Homo sapiens: one gene and its partner. The protein of the gene in region 2 interacts with the protein of the main gene of each other region in a pairwise test. Each region holds a gene or a part of one and is shown on either strand. Other genes may lie near its edges. The genes, in order: GTF2IRD1 and ZMYM5.

The links.
Region 1: the proteins of ZMYM5 (region 2) and GTF2IRD1 interact in a two-hybrid assay, tested with the Homo sapiens proteins (one study listed by BioGRID and IntAct).

The regions. Positions count from the first base shown.
Region 1 is NC_000007.14:74,452,776-74,469,961, reverse strand, and holds the start of GTF2IRD1 (general transcription factor II-I repeat domain-containing protein 1), read right to left. Parts: upstream 16,057-17,186; 5' UTR 15,786-16,056; intron 15,584-15,785; exon of another isoform or gene 15,450-15,583; intron 15,441-15,449; exon of another isoform or gene 15,152-15,440; intron 1-15,151. UniProt on the Homo sapiens protein: May be a transcription regulator involved in cell-cycle progression and skeletal muscle differentiation. May repress GTF2I transcriptional functions, by preventing its nuclear residency, or by inhibiting its transcriptional activation.
Region 2 is NC_000013.11:19,846,650-19,853,649, forward strand, and holds part of ZMYM5 (zinc finger MYM-type protein 5), read right to left. Parts: intron 5,542-7,000; coding exon of another isoform or gene 5,532-5,541; coding exon 5,040-5,531; intron 4,800-5,039; coding exon 4,706-4,799; intron 1-4,705. UniProt on the Homo sapiens protein: Functions as a transcriptional regulator.

The DNA of each region.
Region 1 (17,186 bases), on a different chromosome or scaffold from region 2:
TAATAAAGAATATGATAATTTTTATCTTTTTTGGTAGAGACAGGGCCTTGCTAATACATATGCCGTCTCTACCAAAAAAATATTTAAAAATTAGTCAGGGGTGGTGGCTTGGTGCCTGCAGTCCCAGCTACTTGGGAGGCTGAGGCAGGAGGATCCCTTGAACCCAGGAGTTTGAGGCTGCAGTGAGCCATGATCCCACCAAAGCACTCCAGCCTGGGTGACAGAGCAAGACCCTGTCTCAAAATAAAATAAAATAATAAAAAGTAGAAACACCCCATATGTCCATAACTGATGAACAGATAAATATGATCTATCCATTAAATGGAATATTATTTGGCCATAAAAAGAAAGGCACATTGACTCACGCTACAATGTGGATGAACCTTGAACACATTATACTCACTGAGAAAAGGCCAGACTCGAAAGACCACATATTACATGATTCCATCTACAAGAAACGCCCAGAATAGGCAAATCTACAGAGATGGAAAGTAAATTAGTGGTTGCCAGGGGATGGGGGAGGAGGGAATGAGGGCTGACTGCTTAATGGGGGGAGATTCTTAGGATGATAAAAATGCTCTGAAATTAGACAGTGATGAATACTGCACAACTCTGTGAATATATTTTAAAAAAAACACTGAATTATACACTTTAAAGGAATAGTTTTAAAATAAACTTACAAAAAAAAAGAAAATCCAACATGGTAGAGAAGAACAGAATCAAGTCTCTGGAGACATCACTGAACCCTGAAAAGCATCACCACGCTCCTACCCCAGCCTCCAAATACCTACTCACAGGTACCCATCCCAGCCTCCAAATACCTACTCATAAGTACCCATCCTATCCTCCAAATACCTTCCATATTTTTTTTTTTTTTGAGATGGAGTCTCGCTCTGTCGTCCAGGCTGGAGTGCAGTGGCTCGATCTCGGTTCACTGCAAGCTCCACCTCCCGGGTTCACGTCATTCTCCTGCCTCAGCCTCCCGAGTAGCTGGGACTACAGGCGCCCACCATCACGCCCGGCTAATTTTTTTGTATTTTTAGTAGAGACGGGGTTTCACCATGTTAGCCAGGATGGTCTCGCTCTCCTGACCTCATGATCTGCCTGCCTTGGCCTCCCAAAGTGCTGGGATTACAGGCGTGAGCCACCGCGCCCGGCCCTTCCATATTTTCTTATGAGGAATAAATAAACTCCTTTTTGTTTAACTGTCAGGTTTAATATCTAAAGTCTGCCAGGCTACACACACACACACACACACACACACACACACACACACACACACACAGTTTTTTTTTTTTTTGGAGATGGAGTCTCGCTGCTCTGTCGCCAGGCTGGAGTGCAGTAGCACAGTCTTGGCTCACTGCAACCTCTGCCTCCGAGGTTCAAGTGATTCTCCTGTCTCAGCCTCCCAAGTAGCTGGGATTACAGGCACGTGCCACCACGCCCGGCTAATTTTTTGTATTTTTAGTAGAGATGGGGTTTCACCATGTTGGCCAGGCTGGTCTTGAACTCCTGACCTTGTGATCTGCGCGTCTCAGCCTCCCAAAGTGCTGGGATTACAGGAGTGAGCCACTGCGGCCTGGCTGGGTTTTTTTTTTTTTTTTAAATTATTTTTATGTTTTGTAGAGAACAGGGTCTCACTACGTTGCCCAGGCCGGTCTCAAACTCCTAAGCTCAAGCAATCTGCCCATCTCGGCCTTCCGAAGTGCTAAAATTACATGCCTGAGCTGCTGCACCTGACCTGGCTTAATATTTAGATATTTGCTATATTTACAGTTGGGTGTTTAATTACCTGTAGCCAAATGCAGCCCTAAATGACAGGGGACAGTCCCCTCTTTACCACTAACCAGGACTCGGGGAGCTGTGTACACTGGGGAGTAAAGCTCCAGGCTAGTAGTCAGGATTCAGCAGAACGTCAAGTAATCAGGCCTCGTCACCGCCGGTGGCCTCAGGAATGTCACATACATGTGCATATACACACCCATGCATGCACACAAGCATGTGTGTCTAAATAGCCCAGAGGCGGATCACCTGAGGACAGGAGTTCAAGACCAGTCTGGTCCAACATGGTGAAACCCCGTCTCTACTAAAAATACAAAAATTAGCCGGGAGCAGTGGCGGGCGCCTGTAATCCCAGCTACTCAGGAGACTGAGGCAGGAGAATCGCTTGAAACCAGGAGTCAGAGGTTGCAGTGAGTCGAGATCAAACCACTGCACTCCAGCCTGGGTGACAGAGCGAGATTCTGACTCAAAAAATAAAAATAAAAAATTAAATACAAAATAAAATACAAAAATTAGCTAGGTGTGGTAGTGCATGCCTGTAATCCCAGCTACTCGGGAAGCTGAGGCAGGCAAATCGCTTGAACCTGGGAGGTGGAGGTTGCAGTGAGCCAAGATCACGCCACTGCACTCCAGCCTGGGCGACAGAGCAAGACTCTATCTCAACAACAAAACAAAATAAATAAATAAATAAATAGCCCAGAGGATTAACTGTTCTGGCACTCCACACTTGTGCTGTCTGCACACATCAGCTGCCTTTCCTGGAGGGAAACGCTCCAAATTGGGCTGTACTCGGCTCAGAGAGACAAGCTGCCCCCACTGCCATCGCCACTGCCCTCCAGATGCCTCTGAACGCCACAGCCAGGCCGGCAGAAGCAGCTCCTGGGATGGGTAGAGGAGCGCCAACGAGAGCTGGGATTGAAGGATGGAGAGGGGCCGGGCATGGGGGCTCACCCCTGTAATCCCAGCATTTTGGGAGGCTGAGGCGGGTGGATCACTTGAGGTCAGGAGTTTGAGACCAGCCTGGCCAACATGATGAAACCCCATCTCTACTAAAAATACAAAAACTAGCCGGGTGTGTTGGCAGGTGCATGTGGTCCCAGCTACTGGGGAGGGCTAAGGCAGAATTGCTTTAACCCATGAGGCGGAGGTTGCAGTGAGCCGAGATCATGCCACTGCACTCCAGCCTGGGCAATGGAGCGAGACCCTGTCTCCAAAAAAAAAAAAAAAGAAAGAAAAAGGGTGGAGGAGGCCCCCACCCTTCATGGGCCCCCACCCCGAGCTTGCTTCTAATTCACTTGACAAGGTTGCACAGGATGCCCACTCCGCAACAGGCAGGGTGCTAAGGTCAGGGATGCGGAGGACAACATGATGATGGGGCCGTGACCCACTGGAAGTCACACTCTGTCTGTGAAGGTGACAGACAAGCACGAGGGCAATTATAGTCTTGTTTGTGATGCGGGCTGTGGCTGGGGACACAGACAAGAGGCACCTAACGTGACCTGGAGAGGGAGATGAGGTCAGGGAAGCTTTGCAGAGAGGAGTGACAACCCAGCTGAGACCTGCAACGAGAAATCAGCCCAGGGACACAGCCGGGGAGCATTACGCACGCTCTAGGGGAGAGGCAGCAGCGTTCCAGGAAGCGAGACGGAGCACAGTACGTTTTAGAAACGATGAGGCTCATCGTGGCTGGCACAGAGAGACACAGGCAGGGCCTGGCCATGCCTAGTCTGTAGCTTTTCCAGGAGCCACGGGAACCCCTGAGCTGCCTGGGAGTGAGGCCATCAGATACAGATCTTTACCTGGAGCCAATGCAGCAGCCCCACCGTCACGTCCTGTCTCTGGCCCTACGCTTCTGTCCAAATCACCGTCCTCCAGGGCCATGCAGAAAGCCACTTCTGCAGGCTGCCATCAAACACACCTGGGAGTGGCATTGTCTCCCGTCCCCTAAGCAGCCACAGGTAGCCCCCGCCCCAGAACAGGGCCTGGCCTCTAACAAGCGGGATGGCTGACTGTGACCTTGAGGGGCTAAGGGGTCGGCAGGCCAAGGGGACCAACCAGTTCTACCTTTGAGGTTTTCCCAGTTTGCAGAAGCAGAAACCGAGGCATGCTGTCCGGGTGCAGTGGCTCATGCCTATAATCCCAACACATTGGGAGGCCAAGGCGGGTGGATCACTTGAGGCCAGGAGTTCAAGACCAGCCTGGGCAACATGGTGAAACCCTGTCTCTACTAAAAATACAAAAAATTAGCCAGGCATGGTGGCGGGCGCCCGTGATCCCAGCTACTCGGGAGGCTGAGGCAGGAGACTCACTTGAACCCAGGAGGTAGAGGTTGCAGTGAGCCGAGATCCTGCCACTGCACTCCAGCCTGGGCAACAGAGGAAGACTCTGTCTCAAAAAAAATAAATAAATTGAGGCATGCCACACCCCACACCCCACACCCCACGGACAGAGGGGGTGTGTCCCAGACAGGCAGAAAATAAGAACAGATCTTGGAATGATGGGGTCCAAGGTTCACTGTCTGGGGGAGTGGGGCTCCCACAGGGCCAGCTTCTGGGGTCATCACGTGACAAGCTGACAAAGTGTTCTTCACTGAGATGGCAGCTAGCTCCCCGCAACTGAATACACTGATTTTCCCAAGAACCTGGCAATACTATATAAGAAAACTATCCTTGTTTTTTCAGATGAGGCTCAGAGAGGTACAGTCACTTGCCTGTGGTCACACAGCAGCTCAGCAGTCAGGCTGGGATTTGAACCTAGGTGTGTCTGGCTTCAAAGACCCTGATGGTTCCACTGCACCCTGCTGTGAAGTGAGGGAGCCCTGGCCTCTGACCCAGGGCCACCAAGAGCATCTCTCCTTTGGATATGCTGAGAAGAGAATATCTCAGGGAGCTGGTGGCCCGGGGCAGGTGGGGAGGTGGACCAGGATCAAAGAGGGAGGATGTGGTTTGCCCACCTGCCCAGAGGGCTGCACCCACAGCTGGCAGCCAGGGTGTGCCCTGGGAGCAGAGGTAACCACCTCCTTCCCCAAAGCCCTGCCTCTCCCCACCTGGCCTCACTGCAAGAAGCGGCCATGCCTGAAAAACCAGCTCCTGGATAAACATGAGAGAAACATCAGACTGAGAGAGTCACAAGACCCCTTGGAGCTGCCAGGACCACCCTGGAGCCAGGTGGGTGGGCGGTGGGTCTTGTCTGCTGCAAGGAGCCACCCAGGAGCACCCAAGGGCCTTCCTTCCTGCACAGGGCTAACCTCTTTCCAGGCTACCCACCGAGTGCTGGCCCCAGGGTCCAGCCTTTGAGGACTTTGGGGAACCCGGTAGGGGTGGGAGGCAAGGGTGGGGTACAGGGGAAAGGTACTTGGGGCAACCTTCATTAGAGAGGGGCCACAACGATTTCACAAATAACAAATTAAATAACAAAGTAAAAACCAGCTGGGCGCGGTGGCTTGTGCTCATGTCTGTAATCCCAGCACTTTGGGAGGCTGAGGCAGGTGGATCACTCGAGGTCAGGGGTTCGAGACCAGCCTGGCCAACATGGCGAAACCCCGTCTCTACTAAAAACACAAAAATTAGCCGGGTGTGGTGGCAGGTGCCTGTAATCCCAGCTATTTGGGAGGCTGAGGCGGGAGAAGTGCCTGAACCCAGGAGGAGGGGGGCTGCCATGAGCCGTGATCACACCACTACACTCCAGCCTGGGTGACAGAAGGAGACTCTGTTTCAAAAACAAACAAATAACAACAACAAAAACAACAAAGTAAAAACCCCCCAAATCTCTCAAGACACCCACGCAAGACATGTGATCACCCAGGAAGCTCCATCTCCTTAGGAAGCCGAGAGCCCTGGGAAACTCATGGATTTGCCAATGGGAAACTGACAAACTCTTGCTGGGCTCCCCTGCTTCATTCATGCCCACCTGGCAAACCTGTGGAGGTACTTGCTGTGGTTCCATTTTCTAGAGGGTCAAACTGAGGCTCAGCCTCAGGCAAGTGACAGGCTGGAGTCCGTAAACCACCATAATCTAGGCTCTAGCCACAAAAACATTCACCAGAATAGCCACTGTTCACACAGGGCTGACCTCAGGCAGCAGTGGATTCCAAACATTTAGCAACCAGAACTGTATTTAGAGCTCTAACAGGTAACTCTGGTAAAAGTGGTCCTAGGGCAGGGCGCGGTGGCTCACACCTGTAATTCCAGCACTCTGGGAGGCCAAGATGGGTGGATCATTTGAGGTCAGGAGTTCGAAACCAGCCTGGACAACATGGTGAAACTCCGCCTCTACTAAAAATACAAAAATTAGTCGGGTGTGGTGGCACGCACCTGTGATCCCAGCTACTCGAGAAGCTGAGGCAGGAGAATCAACTGAACCCGGGAGGCGGAGGTTGTAGTGAGCCGTGATCACGCCACTGCACTCCAGCCTGGGCGACAGAGTGAGACTCTGTCTCAAAAAAAAAAAAACAAAAAACAACAGTGGTCCTACTCTGGCCCAAAGGGGCACAGGAGGCTTGAGCCTCACATGTCCCCACCACCCGCTCCTTGGTGGCCCCTGGGGCCCTCCAGGGCTCTGTGGTAATCCACACACTCACATTACCCTCAGCTGAGTCTCACAGCCCTGCAAACCTAGTGTTCTGTTCTCCCACTTAAAGATGAACAGGCAGGACGCAGTGGCTCACCCCTCTAATCCCAGCACTTGGGAAGCTGAGGTTGTGGGATCACTTGAACACAGGAGTTCAAGACCAGCCTGGGCGACATGGCGAGACCCCCATCTCTACAAAATAAAAAAATTAGCTGGGTGTAGTGGCAAGTGCCTCCAAGCCCAGCTACTTAGGAGGCTGAAGTGGGAGAATCACTTGAGCCTAGGAGTTCAAGACTGCAGCAAGCTATGATTGCACCACTGCACTCCAGCCTGGGTGACAGAACGAGACCCTGTCTCAAAATAATAATAAGAACAGATGAACAAACCAAAGCCCAGAGATGTGACATCACTCGGCCAGCCCTGTTCCGTTTGATCCTAACTCCTGCTCCTGCCTGCAACAGTGGCTTCACCACCTTCCTTCCCTACCCTCAGAAGTCCTGCTCTTATTTCAGGCAAACATGAAACTTCTACCCCAAGCAAAACAGCTGCAGGAGTGAAGACCAGAGACGCACCACCAGGAACCCCAGACTCCCACAGGGTGGGGATACATAAGATGATGGGCAAGACACCCCAGGGCACAGACAGCTCCCCTCCCTGGCACCGCCCTCAACCTCCAGCTGTCCTGGCCCCATAGCCTCAATTACTCCAGAGCCCACCTGGATGGCGGCGGGAGGATCGCATGGGGCCAGAGGCCCGGAGGGCAGCGGCAGGCAGGTGTAATTTCATCGCGGGGCTCACAGTATGAGTCACCAGAAACAGAAGATGAAATTCCAGCTCTGAGGGCGGAGATGAGCAGCTCCCCCGGCTTGGGGTCAGCTCTTGATGTGGGGGGTGGGTAGTGATGGGGTGCAGGCCACAGGCCCCCCGCCAGCCAGATGGTGCCTTTGTGAAAATGAGAAAGAGGAACCACCTTCTTCTGGGGGGTCCCGAGCTGATGCAGGGCCGGCCAAGCCGGTTTGCTAGATTTCCCTAGAGAGGAGAGTGGCTAGAGGTATGTGGCATATCCACACCATGGAACACTACTCAGGGACCAGAAGGGACCAGCTACCCGTGTACCCAGCAATGCCGTAAATGCATTATGCTGTGTGAAGCCAGATTCAGAGGCTGTGGACTGTAGGATTCCATTTATGTGACATTGTACAAATGGAAAACCATATACAGAAGACAGATCAGTGGTTGCTGGGGTCAGGACAAGAGACAAGGATGAACAAACGGGCTTCAAAAACTTTTAGGGGTTACAGGATTGTTCTAACTCCTGGGGTCAAGCAATCCTCCTGCCTTAGCCTCCCAAGTAGCTGGGGCTACAGGCACACATCACCACACCCGGCTAATTTTTTTTTTAAGAGACGGGGTCTTGCTATGTTGCCCAGGCTGGTCTCAAATTCTTGGCCTCAAGTGATCCTCCCGCCGCAGCCTCCTGAGTAGCTGGGGCTACAGGCATGAGCCACCTCGCCTGGCTAATTTTTGTACTTCTTGTAGAGATGGAGGTTTCACTATGTTGTCTAGGCTAGTCTCAAACTCCTGGCCTCAAGCCATCCTCCCGCCTCAGCCTCCCAAAGCGCTGTTCTATGTCTTGACGGGGGTTGGACGACATAAGGGTGTGAGCCAGGCAAGTTCCTGGTATAGCATAGCCTTCACTCCTCAACGATATTTTTAATAAAATATAAAGTGGGGCCGGACACAGTGGCTCACGCCTGTAATCCCAGCACTCCGGGAAGTCAAGGTGGACAGATCACTTGAGATCAGGAGTTCAAAACCAGCCTGGCTAAGATGGCAAAACCCCATCTCTACTAAAAATACAAAAATTGGCTGGGCGAGGTGGCATGCACCCATAATCCCAGCTACTCAGGAGGCTGAGGCAAGAGAATTGCTTGAACCCGGGAGGCAGAGGTTGCAGCGAGCCGAGATCGCGCCACTGCACTCCAGCCTGGGTGACAGAGTGAGACTCCATCTTAAATAAATAAATAAAATAAAATATAAAGTGGGCCCTTCTCATGTGCCAGCCGGGGGCTGGGGACCAGGACCTAATGAGACTCCCTCAGGCCTGACGCCTCTGCAAGGTCCTCACTGGCTGGCGTAACAACAGATGGATAGACGAAAAGATACGGACTTGCTTTGATGGTGGTTCTGCCAGTAGCCAGAAAATGCACCTTGAGACCCTGCTAGACCCCAGCCAGCAAAGAGGCCTACCCTCGGCCAACCATCTAAGACACAAACAGCCTGGAGGGTCTCCCCTCTGTCACAGGGAACAGGAGGGGAAAGGGCTAAGCTGCCCCCTGCTTACCTACCCTCCCCAACCATGCAGCCTCTTCTGCATCCTCAAGTGCCCAGGACCGCAAGCCCTCAAGCCAGGCCCTCCCACCCTGTCTCCACCACAGACCTGCCCCCGGGGGTCCCACACACCCATGCTGTGGCATCCCCACGGGGTCACACCAAGTCCCTTGGACTACAGCACCACACTGGGACCCAGGCAGGTTGGGGAGAGCCATCTCCCTTTTACATCCAAGAAAACTGCCCAGGCGGGCGGAAGGTGGACGTGGACCCCATGACCCCGGCCCCTTACTTTCCCCCCATTTCCCCCACTCCAGAGGCTGCAGCTCAGGTGCTGGGAACCTGCCTCAGGTGGCAGCATGGCAAAGGTGCAGGAATTCCCAGCAGCCTCCGTGCTGTGGGGTCAGCCCCTCAAGTCCACAACCGCCCCCGTGGCGGGGTCTCCCAGCTTTGAAAGGTAGCCATTGCAGACACTTTCCCAGCACTCAGGCCTTGCCAATCCTACATGAAAATCTTACTTGGTGTATAATAGGGTGTTTCCAGCAATTTCCCACCCCCTCCTCCCAGCATCTCTAAATATACGGACCACATTGGCCAGAAATCCCTGAAGACAAGGACTTCCCAAACTGGGGATCCCTGGGCACCCCTCAGGCCACCTAGACTACACCCTCCATGCCACCCAGGCCAGTAGGAGATCTAGACCCTCGAGCCACAGGCTGGAGGAGGCCCGACCAAGGACATTAGAAGGATACTGCCTGTAATCCCAGCACTTTGGGAAGCTGAGGTGGGAGGATCGCTTGAGGCCAGGAGCTTGAGACCAGCCTGGGCAACATCGCAAGACCCCATCTCTAAAAAAAAAAAATTTTTTTTTAATTAGCTAGGTGCAGAGGCTGAGGTGGGAGGATCACATTGAGCCCAGGAGTTGGAGGTTGCAGTGAGGTAGGATCACGCCACTGCACTCCAGCCTGGGAAACAGAGTGAGACACTGTCTCAAAAAATAGAATAAAATAAAAATGAAAAAGGACCCTGCTGGCTGGGTACAGTGGCTCACTTCTGTAATTCCAGCACTTTGAGATCACTTGAACTCAGGAACTGGGCAACATGGCGAAACCCCATCTCCACCAAAAATACAAAAAATTAGCCGGGCACGGTGGCGTGTGCCTGTGGTCCCACCTACTTGGGAGACTGAGCCAGAAGGATCGCTTGAGCCGGGGAGGGAGAAGCTGCAGTGAGCCGAGATTGTGCCACTGCACTCCAGCCTGGGTGACAGAGTGAGACCTCATTTCAATACAAATTAAAAAAAAAAAAGCCAAGATTCAGTGAATCAGCTCCACTCGATTCAAACTCGCTCCAGATCATCCCCGGGGCCTCCACTGAGCCCTGATCCCAACTCCAGGGTCAGCCACACACACCTCTGGCCCCTCCCCAAACCCCATCCATCTCACCGCCCCAGAGGCAGCAGTTGTAGGGTTGGCAGATAAAATGCAAGACCTCCAGTTCAGTCTGAACTACAGATCAACAACAGGTAACTTTTAGCTAGAAGTTCATCCCAAATATTGCATTAGTCCTTGCTTGTCTGAAATCCAATTTTAGCTGGGCATCCTTATTTTTATTTGCTAAATCTGGCAACCTGAAGCAGGTGGTCCTGAAAGAGGGTGACAGGTGGGCACACAAATAGCTCTGGGTCAGCCAGGCCCCAGCTCAGGGGCGAGAGAGTTCTGTTCACCGCCTGAGACACTCCCTAAGACCGTGTAAGATAAAGTACATCCTCACCCATTTCACCTATCTTATTCAGGACACCTATCTTATCTTTTTTTTTTTGAGACAGAGTTTCACTCTTGTCGCCCAGGCTGGAGTGCAATGGTACGATCTCAGCTCACGGCAACCTTCACCTCTTAGGTTCAAGCAATTCTCTTGCCTCAGCCTCCCGAGCAGTTGGGATTACAGGCGCCCGCCACTACGCCTGGCTAATTTTTGTATTTTTAGTAGAGATGGGGTTTCACCGTGTTGGCCAGGCTAGTCAAACTCCTGACCTCAGGTGATCCGCCCGCCTCGGTCTCCCGAAGTGCAAAGTGCTGGGGATTACAGGCATGAGCCACCGCACCCGGCCCTAACTTATCTTAAATGGGCAAATTTCCAGGGCATGAACCCAGGTTCCTACAGACCTGGCCCCTTTCTGCACGACCCTCCATACTCATGAAGCCACAAACCTAGGTGCAGATTGGCCCAGAGAGAAGGGAATGGGACCGAGAATGGATCAGTTCCACAGGACGAGTGGAGAGAGAGCTACCAAAATAGGGTGGGTGAAGAAGTGATGATGAGGCCGGGCCTGGGGGCTCACACCTGTAATCCCAGCACTTTGGGAGGCCAAGGAGGGCCAATCACTTGAGGTCAGGGGTTCATTCAAGACCAGCCTGGCGAACATGGTGAAACCCCGTCTCTACTAAAAATACAAAAATTAGCCAGGTGTGGTGGTGTACATCTGTAATCCCAGCTACTCGGGAGGCTGAGGCACGAGAATCACTTGAACCCGGGAGGTGGAAGTTGCAGTGAGTTGGGATCGTGCCACTGCACTCCAGCGTGGGCAACAAAGCAAGACTCCATCTCAAAAAAAAAAAAAAGAAAGGGGGGTGATGGACCAGGGGGCTTTCCTGAAAAGCTTTCTGCCTCCAAAACCCACATTACCACACCCCCTACAGGCCAAAGCCCCTCTGCCACACCTGGAGATACCTGACTGAGAACTTCCAAAGTAGGCCAAGAAAGTGACAGGGTCCTGCCTCCCTTCCGGAGTATGGAGCCTGGGTAGAAAGCACATGTTTCTATGAGATGGGGCTGAGGGGATTCCGAGAGGCCAGGCCCCTCCTGCCGTATCTGGAGCCCCCAACATCTACACCTTGGAGACTGTTACCCCCTCACCAGCAATCATCTGTCACAACACACTGTCTTCTGGCCAGGTTCACGCATCTCCTTCTCCCCCAGAAACCATCCTTCCCACCACTCCACCTCTGCTATGAATTCCTTCAGGAAATTCCCTTCCAGTCACACTAAGGGTCCCTGTCCTAGCGGCCCCATATTATCCCGGAAGCCCCCCAATCAAAACTGAACTCAGGACCGGGCGCAGTGTCTCATGCCTGCAATCCCAGCACTTTGGGAGGCAGAGGCGGGCAGATCACTTGAGGTCAGGAGTTCTAGACCAGACTGGCCAACATGATGAAACCCCATCTCTACTAAAAATACAAAAATTAGCCGGGCGTGGTAGAGCATGCCTGTAATCCCGGCTACTTGAGGCAGGAGAATCGCTTGAACCCAGGAGGCAGAGGTTGCAGTGAGCCGAGATGGCGCCACTGCATGCCAGCCTGGGCGACAAAGTGAGACTCCCTCTCAAAAAAAAAAAAAAAAAAACAAAAACGTAACTCAGCATGGATTCCAAGCCCTGGGTCCTGCTCTGCTCCTCTGTTTATAAATTGGCCCTGCAGGTCTTCTTCCATGGGTGTCCCCTGAAGCCTCTGCAGGCCCCATGGAGCTGGGCATACACCCCTGGCTTGTCCCAAAGAACCTGGCTGTGACCCTGGCTGCCACGCATCTGAGAGAGAGATACTTACAAACGGCGAGAGTCAGAGAACTGAGAGATACAGAGAGGATGACATTGGGGAGCAAAGCCCCCAGGGTTAAGGTTGGGAGAAGACACAGGCTGGGGTAGTGGGGAGAGAGGGGGCCCCAGGAAGTTCAGGGAGAGACCCTGGGACTCCTACCAGGGTGGGGAACTTGCCCCAGAGATGAGCATTTAAGAAAAATAGGAGAGAGTCTGCTTAGCCATTTAGGTCAAGGCTCAAGAGCAGGATTTCATTCATTCATTCATTCAAACATGTAGCCATTTAACAAGTATTTGAGGAGCAAGCCTCCATCCCTTCCTGTCCCTAGTGCAATTGGGGAGAGAGATGTAAACATCTGAGTAAGATCAATGTTGGGACAAAGGAAGGAAAGGATGTTGGCTAGGCGCGGTGGTTCACTCCTGTCATCCCAGCACTTTGAGAGGCCAAGGTGGGAGGACTCCTCATGCCCAGGAGTTCGAAACCAGCCTGGGCAACATAGCAAGACCCCATCTCTACAAACAATAAAAAATTAACCAGGTGTAGTGGCCCTTGTCTGCGGTCCCAGCTACTTGTGAGGCTGGGGTGGGAGGGTGGCTTGAGTCCAGGAGTTCGAGGCTGCAGTGAGCTGTGATCACACTACTGCACCCCAGCCTGGGCACAGAGCAAGACTGTCTCAAAAAAAGAAAAAAAGAAAAAAAAGAGAGGACATCATGGGGATATAAAGGTGGAACCATGGCCAGCCCTGAGGACGAGGAAGTCTTCAGCCCAAAGATACCACAGCCAAGCCAAGTCCTGAAGGAGAGGAAAAGAGGCAAATTCTATAATCCTGACCCCCTACCCTAGCCAGGCAGGGCTAATAAAGGAAGCCCCCCAGCCTCCTCAGGGGAAAGGCCAAGAAGAACCTTCGAGAGAAGAGGAACTGTGTGTGCAGAGGCCAGGGGTAGGAGGAAGCCAGGCCATTCAGGAAAACGGCAAGACTACAGAATTTTTTCTTTTTTTTTTTTTAGATGGAGTCTTGCTCTGTTGCCCAGGCTGGAGTACAGTGGTGCGGTCTTGGCTCACTGCAACCTCCACCTCCCGGGTTCAAGCGATTCTCCTGCCTCAGCCTCCCGAGCAGCTGGGATTACAGATGCCTGCCACCACGCCTGGCTAATTTTTTGTATTTTTAGTAGAGATGGGGTTTCACCATGTTGGCCAGGCTGGTCTTGAACTCCTGACCTCGTGATCCACCCACCTCGGCCTCCCAAAGTGCTGGGATTACAGGCGTGAGCCACTGCGCCCGGCCAGACTACAGGATTTATGAGTCGGCTGAGGAAGCAGTGAGTGGTCAGAGACTAGACCCTGAATGAGAATCATCTGGGAGCTGCAGTCTATGGTTCCAAGGTCATGCTTAGGACGTGAATGTCCCAAGCCATCACCCACCATCCACAAGACCCCAGGTCCAACAACCAAGCTGTCACCAAACCGTGGATGGCCTGGCCTCTGGAGTCAAGCAGGCTGCAAAAACAGCTACCTCCAAGACCCTAGATTACAGCTGCCACTCAGACTATTGCCAAACACCAAGTGCTGACGACTACCACCTCATCAGAAGGCTAGCCGGGCTCCTGGGAGGCTGCCTTCAATGAACAGATAAAAATTATTTGTGATTAGCATACTGCAAATAAATGACCCTTCTCCCAACATCGAGAGAACAGTCCTTTTAAGTAGGTTTAGCGTGCCCCCTACAAAGCTGTCTTCAAGACCCAGTTTTACAACCATCGGCCTTAAGTTCTCGAACATTTTAAGAGTGCAGGCTCTGAGTGGCTGCGGAGTTTCAACCCTTCCTTCCTAGTTTCCTCTGTGGGGTCCTGTGGGACCCTCTGAGTTAGAACTGCCAATTTCTAGGTCACCCTCAGAACAGGCTGTGGAAGAACGAGGTGTGGACTTGAGCCTCCCACACCCCAGAGGCAGGATGGGGGTTCCGATACCCTGTCACCTTGGGGCCAAGCCTGTCCCTTGGTCCGCAGATGCCTGCTCAGAAGAGGTCAGAGTCTATCTCACACCCTCCTGGGCCCCAAATAGGGCGGTTCATGACGGCCACCTAACTACCTTATACCTAGCCCCTCCCTGCCAGCAGCCACCAGCCTCCAGCCACCTCCTCCTGCTTAGAATAAATAATCGATGCTGGTGCCCTTCCCCTCTGGAATGACACTGCTGAAATAAATGAGCTGCTTGGGGCACCTTCCAAGTCCCAAGGCCCCGGGCCAGTGCCAAGGAGTCAACAGTCCTGGCCACGGGGCAGCCAGACACACAGAGGCCGACCATGGCAGCGGCGCGCCAGGGTGGCTTCTAGACACCCCTCTCCTCTTCTAAGAGAAACCCCAGCAAATGCCCACTTCTCCAAAAACTGCGGGGGCCTGCCCTCCACTCCCACCCGCCAGGCCCAGGGCCATCCCGGGGTACCCCTTGGCACATTCTCCATCCAAGAGTCAGTGCTCCCCTCACAGGCCCTGCAGCGAGACCCCTATGTCCCAGCACCCTCGCTTCAGCTGGGATGGGGACACAGGAGACTCCCACCGCAGGACCTTGGTCCTGGGAGGTAGGGTCACTAGGCCAGACGCCAGAGCTCCAGCCCCCTCCAGCACTGCCAGGAGGGTGGAACGAACTCTCAGCGGCACAGCGGCCCCCTTCCCTGGGCCCACGCCAGGCGAGGCAGGGTCTCACTCCCTGGCTGCTGGCCAGGGGTGAGGAGCCCAGGAGAGGTGTCAAGCCCATCATGCCCAGGGTACTTAGGATGGGGCGGGTGGGTGTTCAGCACCCTGTGGCCCCTCCTCTGTCCTCTCCACCCATCTGCAGGAACTCAGAGACCACCCACAGACCGAGTATCCCCAACTTACTCCTCTGAACCCTTTGTGGTCCCCCCACTGCCACCTTCTGAGTCCCCTCCACCCGGGATTCAGCGGCCACCACCACACAGGCCAGCCCCCTCCCCGGGGCCGGGGCGGGGGGTCCACTACAGGAACCACCCTGCTGGGGCAATCCTGGCTGGACTGGACTCCGCCTGGGAGTTGGGGGCGCGGGCCAGGGGCTGGCCCAGACCGGGAGAAGGTGGAGGGGGGAAAGGCGGGGACCGCGGCCTTCCCAGCCCCCTCTGCTCCCACCCCGGCGCCCGCCACCGCGGGCAGCGCGACTGACCTCATTCGCCAACTGCAGCAGCCTGCGGGCGCCGGCCCGGGACGCCCCCCACCTCCAGAAGAGCCGGTGGCAAGGAGGGAGGGGGTGACAGCTCCCAGCTCCCGGCCCCTCCCGGGCAGGTGGGGGGCGGCCGTCCCTCCCCTCCCCCCGGGCCCGAATTATAATCCCAGTCACGTGCCTCCCCGGGCACCCAAAAGCCGGCCCCAGCTCCTGTAACACCTTGAGAGGGGGAGGGGCGGGGACCCCCCCCCCCGGAGGCGGAGGGGATCGGGGGCGGGGGTGGGGGAGAAGGGGAGAAGGGCCTCGGTGCCCGCCCCCCGCAAAAGTTTCTCCTACCTTGGAGGATCCCCAAGCGCTCCTGCCAGCGGCGCCCCGGCCCCGGCCCGCGGCCAGGACTCAGCCTCCTGCCGCTGCCTCCTTAATTAATCCGGGAGAATGGGGGAAGGAGAGGCAGAGGGAGGCGAGGACGGCGGCGCGGCGAGGGCGGGGAGGGAGGCGCGGGGAGGGGGCGCGGGGGGGGAATCGGCCGGCCGGGGGGCTGGCGCTCGGCGGCCCCCACCCCCGGCGCGGGCTGCGGCGGAGGGCGGGGCGGCGCGGGGAGAGGAGCGGAGAGCGGGAGCGCGGGGAGGCTCTTTGTTCTGTAATCCCAGTAAGATTGCCAGCCATTCGCCCCGGCCCTAATCCCAGCCCCGCGCAACACCACCCTCCATTGGCTGCCATTTACATACGGGATTAGCCCGCCCCGCGCCCCGCGCCCCTGCGCACCCCCCTTGCTACCCAGCGCCCCTGCGTCCCGGGGACCTGGGCACCGCGGTGGGGAGAGCGCGCCGCACCCCTCGGCCCCGGACCTGCGGGGAGGGGCGGTGGCGCCCTCGGTTCTCCCCCACCAGCGCCGGATTAGAAAAGCCTGGGCGCGCCCCCGTCTACCCCCACCGCTCCCCACCACCACTGGGAGAGCAGCCGGGCGCAGGGGGCTGAAGTTGGAGGGTCAAGGTCACCCAGCTGGAACGCGCGGAGGCCCTGAGTGTCCCGGCTGGTCACTCCCGCCTGGCCCGGGTTCTAGTCCTAAGGCTTGGGCCAGGTACCTCTTACTCTTACAGCCTTTGTCCCCCTCCCACCCCTGAGATGTGCAGGAAGGCAGTGACAGGCCGAAAGTCGCAGCAGAGCCAACTGGACTCTTGGTCCCATCTTGTCTGATGGGACCTCCCTCTGATAGGCTTTTACCCCTGTCCCCCCAACCAGCCCCCCCGCCCCCCGCCCGCCCCGCTCCCACCAACCACACACACACCACAGCAGCGCTCCTACTGAATCAGTGCGCACGCCTCCCATCCGGCCCCAAAGCCATAAATCCTAATTCAGCACAAGGAACACAGTCCTTCCCCCACGTGGTGCCCTGATCCCTGAACTAGACCTTGGCTAGACTGGGCATGGCAGGGAGGGAGGGACTCACCCCAGGCAGGCCCCAACCCCAGGGAGCTTCTGGCTTAGAAGGACAGCCAAACATAGATCGAGAATCTCCCAGGTCCTGGCAAAACCCACAAGGTCTCCCCACAGCCTCCTGGCCAAACTGCCTTTGCAAAGATTAGGACAGTGACAGAAGTTTAGCGTGGCTGACTCCATCTTGCTTCCAGCCTCACGCGCTGGCTGTCTTCACTCATTCCGGGGCATAGGCCAAGCTAACCGGGGGAGGAATTTAGTTTATAGTTCAACTTTGAAACAAGGATGATAATAGTTACT
Region 2 (7,000 bases):
TCCAAATAACCAATGCACAATGTTATTAATACAAAGGTTAAAAATCCATTCAAAATCAATAGATTTTAAACTAATAGACCAGTCTGTACCAAATACAGTCCCCCCCTTTTTTTTAAGGAAAAAAAAAACTAGCAGGGTGTTATGGCATGCACTTGTAGTCTCAGCTACTTAGGAGGCTGAGGTGGGAGGATAACTTGAGCCCAGAAGTTTGAGGCTGCAGTGAGCTATGATCATGGCACTGCACTCTAGTCTGGGAAACAGAGTGGGATGCTGACACATAAAAAAATTAAAAATAAACAGTATGAAAAAAATTTTTTTGAGACAGTCTCGCTCTGCTGCCCAGGCTGGAGTGCAATGGCATGATCTCAACTCACTGCAACCTAGGCCTCCCAGGTTCAAGTGATTCTTGTGTCTCAGCCTCCCCAGTAGCTAGGACTACAGGCATGCACAACCACACCCAGCTAATTTTTTGCATTTTTAATAGAGATGGGGTTTTGTCATGTTGGCCAGGCTGGTCTCGAACTCCCAGCCTCAAGTGATCCGCCTGCCTTGGCCTCAAAAAGTGCTGGGATTATAGGCATGAGCCACTGCGCCTGGTGATGAAAACTTAATTATACGGTTACAAATCCCACATTGTAACAACCTCGAAAACTACTAATTGTCAAGTTTTGGTGCTGCATCAAAAGAAAACTATCCACATCTAAAAAGACGTGGAAAATAGTCCTCCCTTCTCCAACCACCTATCTATGTGAGGCCAGATTTTCTTCTTATACTTCAAGCAAAACAAAATACTACAACAGACTCAATACAGAAATACATATGAGAAGCCAGATATACCTGTCTTCTATTAAGCCAGATTTTAAAGAGATTTGCAAAAATGTAAGACAATGTTACTTTTCACTAAATTTCTTTGAAAATAGTTATTTTTCATTACAAATGTTATTTATGTTATATAATGGGTAATTATTGTGAAATGAATAGTTTTAATTTTTCTTTTTTTTTTTTTTCTGTGAGATGGAGTCTCACTCTGTCGCCCATGCTGGAGTGCAGTGGCGTGATCTTGGCTCACTGCAACCTCCCGGGTTCAGGTCATTCTCCTGCCTCAGCCTCCCGAGTAGCTGGGACTACAGGCACCTGCCACCATGCCCGGCTAATTTTTTTTTTTTTTTTTTTTTTTTGTATTTTTAGTAGAGACGGGTTTCACTGTGTTAGCCAGAATGGTCTCGATCTCCTGACCTCGTGATCCGCCCACCTCGGCCTCCCAAAGTGCTGGGATTACAGGCGTGAGCCACTGCGCCCGGACTAGTTTTAATTTTTCTTAAGATTTTATCTTATTTTTTGAAACAAAAAAATTTCTGTCGCCCAGGCTGGAGTGCAGTGGCATGATCTCAGCTCACTGCAACCTCAGCATCCTGAGATCAAGCAATTCTCATGCCTCAGCCTCCCAAGTAGCTGTGACTGCAGGAGCATGCCACCATACCCAGCTAATTTTTTTTTGTTGTTTTTTGTATTTTTGTAAGAGACGGGGTTTCACCATGTTGGCCAGGCTGGTCTTGAACTCCTGACCTCAGGTGATCCGACAGCCTTGGCCTCTGAAAATGCTAGGATTACAGGTGAGAGCCACCACACCCAGGTAATTATTATTTTTTGAGACCGGGTCTCACTCTATTACCCAGGATGGAGTGTAGTGTTGTGATCATGGCTCACTGTAGCCTCAAACTCCTCGGCTCAAGTGATCCTCCTGCCTCAGCCTACGAAAAGTGCTGCAATTACAGATGTGAGCTACTACGTCCATCCATTATTATTATTTTTTAAAGACATTAGGTCTTGCTATGTTGCCCAGACTGGACTCAAACTCCTGGGCTCAGGTGACCCTCCCACCTCAGCCTCTTTGTTTTTTTTTGAGACAAGTCTCACTTTGTCGCCCAGGCTGGAGTGCAGTGGAGTGATCTGGGCTCACTGCAACCTCTGCCTCCCAGGTTCAAGTGATTTTCCTGCCTCAGCCTCCTGAGTAACTGGGGCTACAGGTACATGCCACCATGCCTGGCTACTTTTTAATTTTTTTAGTAGAGATGGGGTTTCACCACGTTGGCCAGGGTGGTCTCAAAATCCTGACTTCAAGTGATCCACCTGCCTTGGCCTCCCAAAGTGCTGGGATTACAGGTGTAAGCCACCATGCCCAGCCCCACCTCAGCCTCTTGAATAGCTGGGACTACAGGTGCACGCCACTATACCTGGCTAAAGCTTTAATTTTTAATATATCTAATAATAGAAATAAAAGAAACCTTTGGGGTCTTCATTTTAAGAGTGAATCTGAGACCAAAAAAATTGAGAATAAGTACCCTATGGAAAAAATAAAAAATGTAAACATACGTATTTATTGTAGCTTCAAAACAATGAAAAAGCATGTAAATGATGAAAAAAATACATAGGGGAATGAGTACTTCAGACAAATATTTTGTGGTTACTAAAACTTATATATACATATTTTTAGAGACAGAGTCCCACTCTGTTGCCTAGGCTGGAGTGCAGCGGTAGGATTAAAGCGCAATGTGACCCCAAACTCCAGGTCTCAACTGACCCATCGCAGCTTCCTTAAGTGCTGAGTTTACAGGTGCACATCATGGCGCCTGGCTAATTTTTTTTTACTTTTTATAGAGATGAGGTCTTCGCTACGTTACTGAGGCTGGGTTCAAACTCCTGGCCTCAAGTGATCCTTCTTCCTTGGCCTCACAAAGCGATGACATTACAGGGGTGTGCCACTGCACCCAGCCTATATTTTTATGATGACATAAAATATTAGCATTTAGATTAAGTAAATCAGCAGGATACAAAACAATATAAAAAGTGCTCTAAATTATATTTTTAAAAACCAAAGATTGAAAGCAAACAAACCAAATTCTTCACAGTGGTCACATTATTTCTAGTTACTGGGGTAAGGAGACATATTTTCTGATTTCTATGATTTTTTTCTAAATATTCTATAATAATCACATAGTATTTCGTAACCAGAAGATAAAATTAATTTTAAAAATAAGGAAAAAAGTTGGCCGGGCGCGGTGGCTCAGGCCTGTAATCCCAGCACTTTGGGAGGCTGAGGCGGGTGAATCACTTGAGGTCAGGAGTTTGAGACCAGCCTGGCCAACATAGTGAAACCCCATCTCTACTAAGAATACAAAAAATTAGCTAGGCGTGATGGCACACGCCTGCAATCCCAGCTACTCGGAAGGCTGAGGCCCGGGGATCACTTGAACCCAGGAGGCAGAGGTTGCAGTGAGCCGAGATCGTGCCACTGCATTCCAGCCTGGGTGACAGAGACTCTGTCTCAAAAAAAAAAAAGGGAAAAAGCACTATTTTCCTGAAGGCAACAACATGATTAGGTTCTCAGGTTCTCGTTACTTTTCAGTACTTTCCTAAAATTCAACAGGCTATAAACACTAAAATGGTCAAAAAAACAATACCAACTCTCCCCCAAACCCCTCACAAGTCACATAAAAGCAACAAAAAGGCATTGCTATTTAAAAAATCACTTGTTATGTTTTAATTATATCAGAATAGGACTATCTATATAAGTTCTAAAAATACAGTTCCTTGATTTAAAGGCAAGAAAGTTTTCCAACTTTCAGAATTAAGCGACTAATAAAACGCCGATTTAAAAACTAAAATCAGGCCAGTCGCAGTGGCTCACACCTGTAATCCCAGCACTTGGGGAGGCTGAGGTGGGCAGATCACCTGAGGTTAGGAGTTTGAGACCAGCCTGGCCAACATGGAGAAACCCTGTCTCTACTAAAAAGACAAAATTAGCCAGGCATGGAGACGGGCGTGCTTGTAATCCCAGCTACCTGGGAGGCTGAGGCAGGAGAATCAGTTGAACCCGGGAGGGAGGGGCTGCAGTGAGCCGAGATGACGCCATTGCACTCCAGCCTGGGCAAAAAGAGCAAAACTCTGTCTCAAATAAATAAATAAATAAATAAATAAAAACTAAAATCAGGGATAAAAACAGCCTAAAATTAAAAGCTTAAGCAAAAATTGAAATTTTAAATAATTATAAATAAAATAAAATCCAATCATTATATATTACTTTGTTCTTTCATTACACTGTATCTTTATCCTTTGATTTTTATATAAAGAAAGTAAAGAAGGTAAAGTATTTCAATTAAAATATTTTAGATGTAAATCTTACTGGATAAAATAGATTAAAATCCCAAAATTTCAGAGACCAAGTAGACCGTACAGTTTTATTAAGTAAAATATTCTATCTTAATATGAAAGTCAAAGGCCGGGAGTGGTGGCTCACGCCTGTAATTCCAACACTTTGGGAAGCCAAGACAGGTGGATCACTTGAGGTTAGGAGTTCGAGATCAGCTTGGTCAACATGGTGAAACCCTATCTCTACTAAAAACACAAAAACTAGCCGAGTGTGGTGGCAGGCGCCTGTAATCCCATCTACTCAGGAGGCTCAGGCAGGAAAAAAAAAATCGCTTGAACCTGGGAGGCGGAGGTTGCAATGAGCTGAGATTGCGCCATTGTACTCCAGCCAGCCTGGGTGAGAAGAGCGAAACTCGGTCTCCAAAAACAAACAAACAAACAAGCAAACAAAAAAAGCAAAGCCACAGAATGTGAATAAAATAGATATGAGCTTTACTAAAAAGAACAGCCAAAGGCTTATTTACTTGAGGTAGAAACAGTATCACTTACTGCTTACCAGGACTATGATGAGTTGCAAATTCTCCATTCTGAAATAAGTCTCCTGCCACATTCATTCTACCAGGGTTAAAAGGTCTTACTCCAGTCTTGGTCTGTGGAGTTAAAGATGGGGTGTACGTTTGTATATTAACACCAAAATTACTTGACTGAAGTCCTTTAGCGACATCTCCCAAGTTGGTATTCTATAGTGATGTTTTATATGTAATAATTATGTTCACATCTTGCCCAGCATTCACAGAGCTTATACCTGTTTCTAAGGTTGTAACATTAGTAATAATGTATTTCAGAGTCAATTCTGTAGTGATACCACTATTACCCATTCCTGCATTTACCTTACTTCTTGAAAGACTGGAAGTGGAGAAATCCAAATCGTTGGTTTTGTTTTTAGTTCCAGGAAGTCCCCATTCGATAAAACAGGAAGACTTTTTCTCTGCTCCTCCATTTGTTTCTATGTCCTCTTCATCATCAATAACAATTGTCTCACTTATATTTCCTTTCTGAGATGCCAAATCTCTTGAAGAAGGAGGAATTACAGAATAATTTCCTTGAGGCTTTTCATTTTTTGATGATGCAAATATGAAGTTTCTTTGATCAGCTATTGCTGGAGCAGAAATTGAAGGAGGTTGTATAGATTCAATAAACACAACATCATCATCATCATCATCATCTTCCACTGGTGAGTTCCTAGATCTACTGACTAAAGGACAAGCTGGATGACCAAATGAATCCCCTATGTCCATGAGACTAGTTGCCATGGCCATATTCCCTAATAAAGCAGGAGTCTGTTCAGTCAACTCTAATCCTCCCACTGAACATTTTTCCATGCCAATGAACCTGTAGAGACAGAAAAGAAAAAAAAAAGTTCTAGTATGTTATGGTTTTTGCATTTTACTACAATAAAATAGCACAAGCAAATTTTTCAAATTATTTTTTGTGATACCTGATATCCATTTTGTTTTTCCTCTACTGTTAACTAATGTTTACTTCAGAGCTTGATGGAAATTAATTATATAATTTTGGTAGTCCTTTAAAAAATTCTAATCAATTTATAGTACTCACTTTATTCACTCTTTATAGTGAAAAAATGCCTGCCTTCCTTTGAATTAGAAAATAGTAACAAAATAATTAAATTAAATACCAATAACTTAGGGTCCTAATATAATCACTTATATTCCATATGCTTTTACCTACTACAGCATTTATGATATGGCCCTATTTCCCAAGTGTCTCCTGCCATTGTTTTCTTTCCAAAATCACTTCTTCCAAAATAATTATGTAATTATCTTTATGCATCTTTTTTGTCCTTGTACAGAAAGCATTAAGTCCATTTATGCCAGATATTATGCAATGGGCTTTTTACAGAAAATAAAATTATCAAAACTCCATGATAGTAGCTATAATTTACTCTTATAGTTCAAGAAACTGAGGCCTAGGGAAGCTAACTAAATTGTTCCACATAACACTGGGAGTAAGACTTAAACTCAGGGCTCTAAAAATTCGTTTTCTTTTGAGAGAGGGTCTGGCTCTGTTGTCCAGGCTGGAGTGCAGTTGTGCCATCCTGGCTCACTGCAGCCTTAAATGCCTGGGTTCAAGCAATCCTCCCACCTCAGCCTCCCAAGTAGGTAGGACTACAGGCTCTTGCCATCACAGCCCAGCTAATGTTCCATAAAGTTCTTGGAGAGAGGAGGTCTCACTACATTGCCCAGGCTCATCTCAAACTCCTGGCCTCAAGCAATCCTCCTGCCTTGGCTCCCCAAAATGCTGGGATTACAGGCATGAGCCATGGTACTTGGCCTAGCCCCAAATTCTTAACTTGTTAACACTCAACCTTTTGTATACTTACTATGCACTAAGCTATGATGACAGAAATAATCTAGCAGAGACAATAGTTGAAAAATCTGGAAGTGAATAACTGATGAAACATGGGGGGCTCTTAAGCAGATGAGAGATAAGGACATGTGCACAGGTGGTAATGAAATTGATCACGTATAAGGATCACCTCTATCTCAACTGAAAGAAGGCAAAAGTAAGTATAATTGGAATGTTATGTAGGTATGCAGAAACAATACATGGGATTATACATGCTGGCCTCAATTTTCAATTTTTTTTTTCTTTTAGTAGATGTGAGGTCTCACTATGTTGCCCAGGCTGGTCTCGAACCCCTGAGCTCAAGTGATTCTCCCACCTGGACCTTTCAAAGTGCTGGGATTACAGGAATGAGCCACCACAACAGGCGTGGCCTCAGTTTTTTTTTTCTTTCTTTTTTTTTTTTGTCCTGTCTCACTCTGTCACT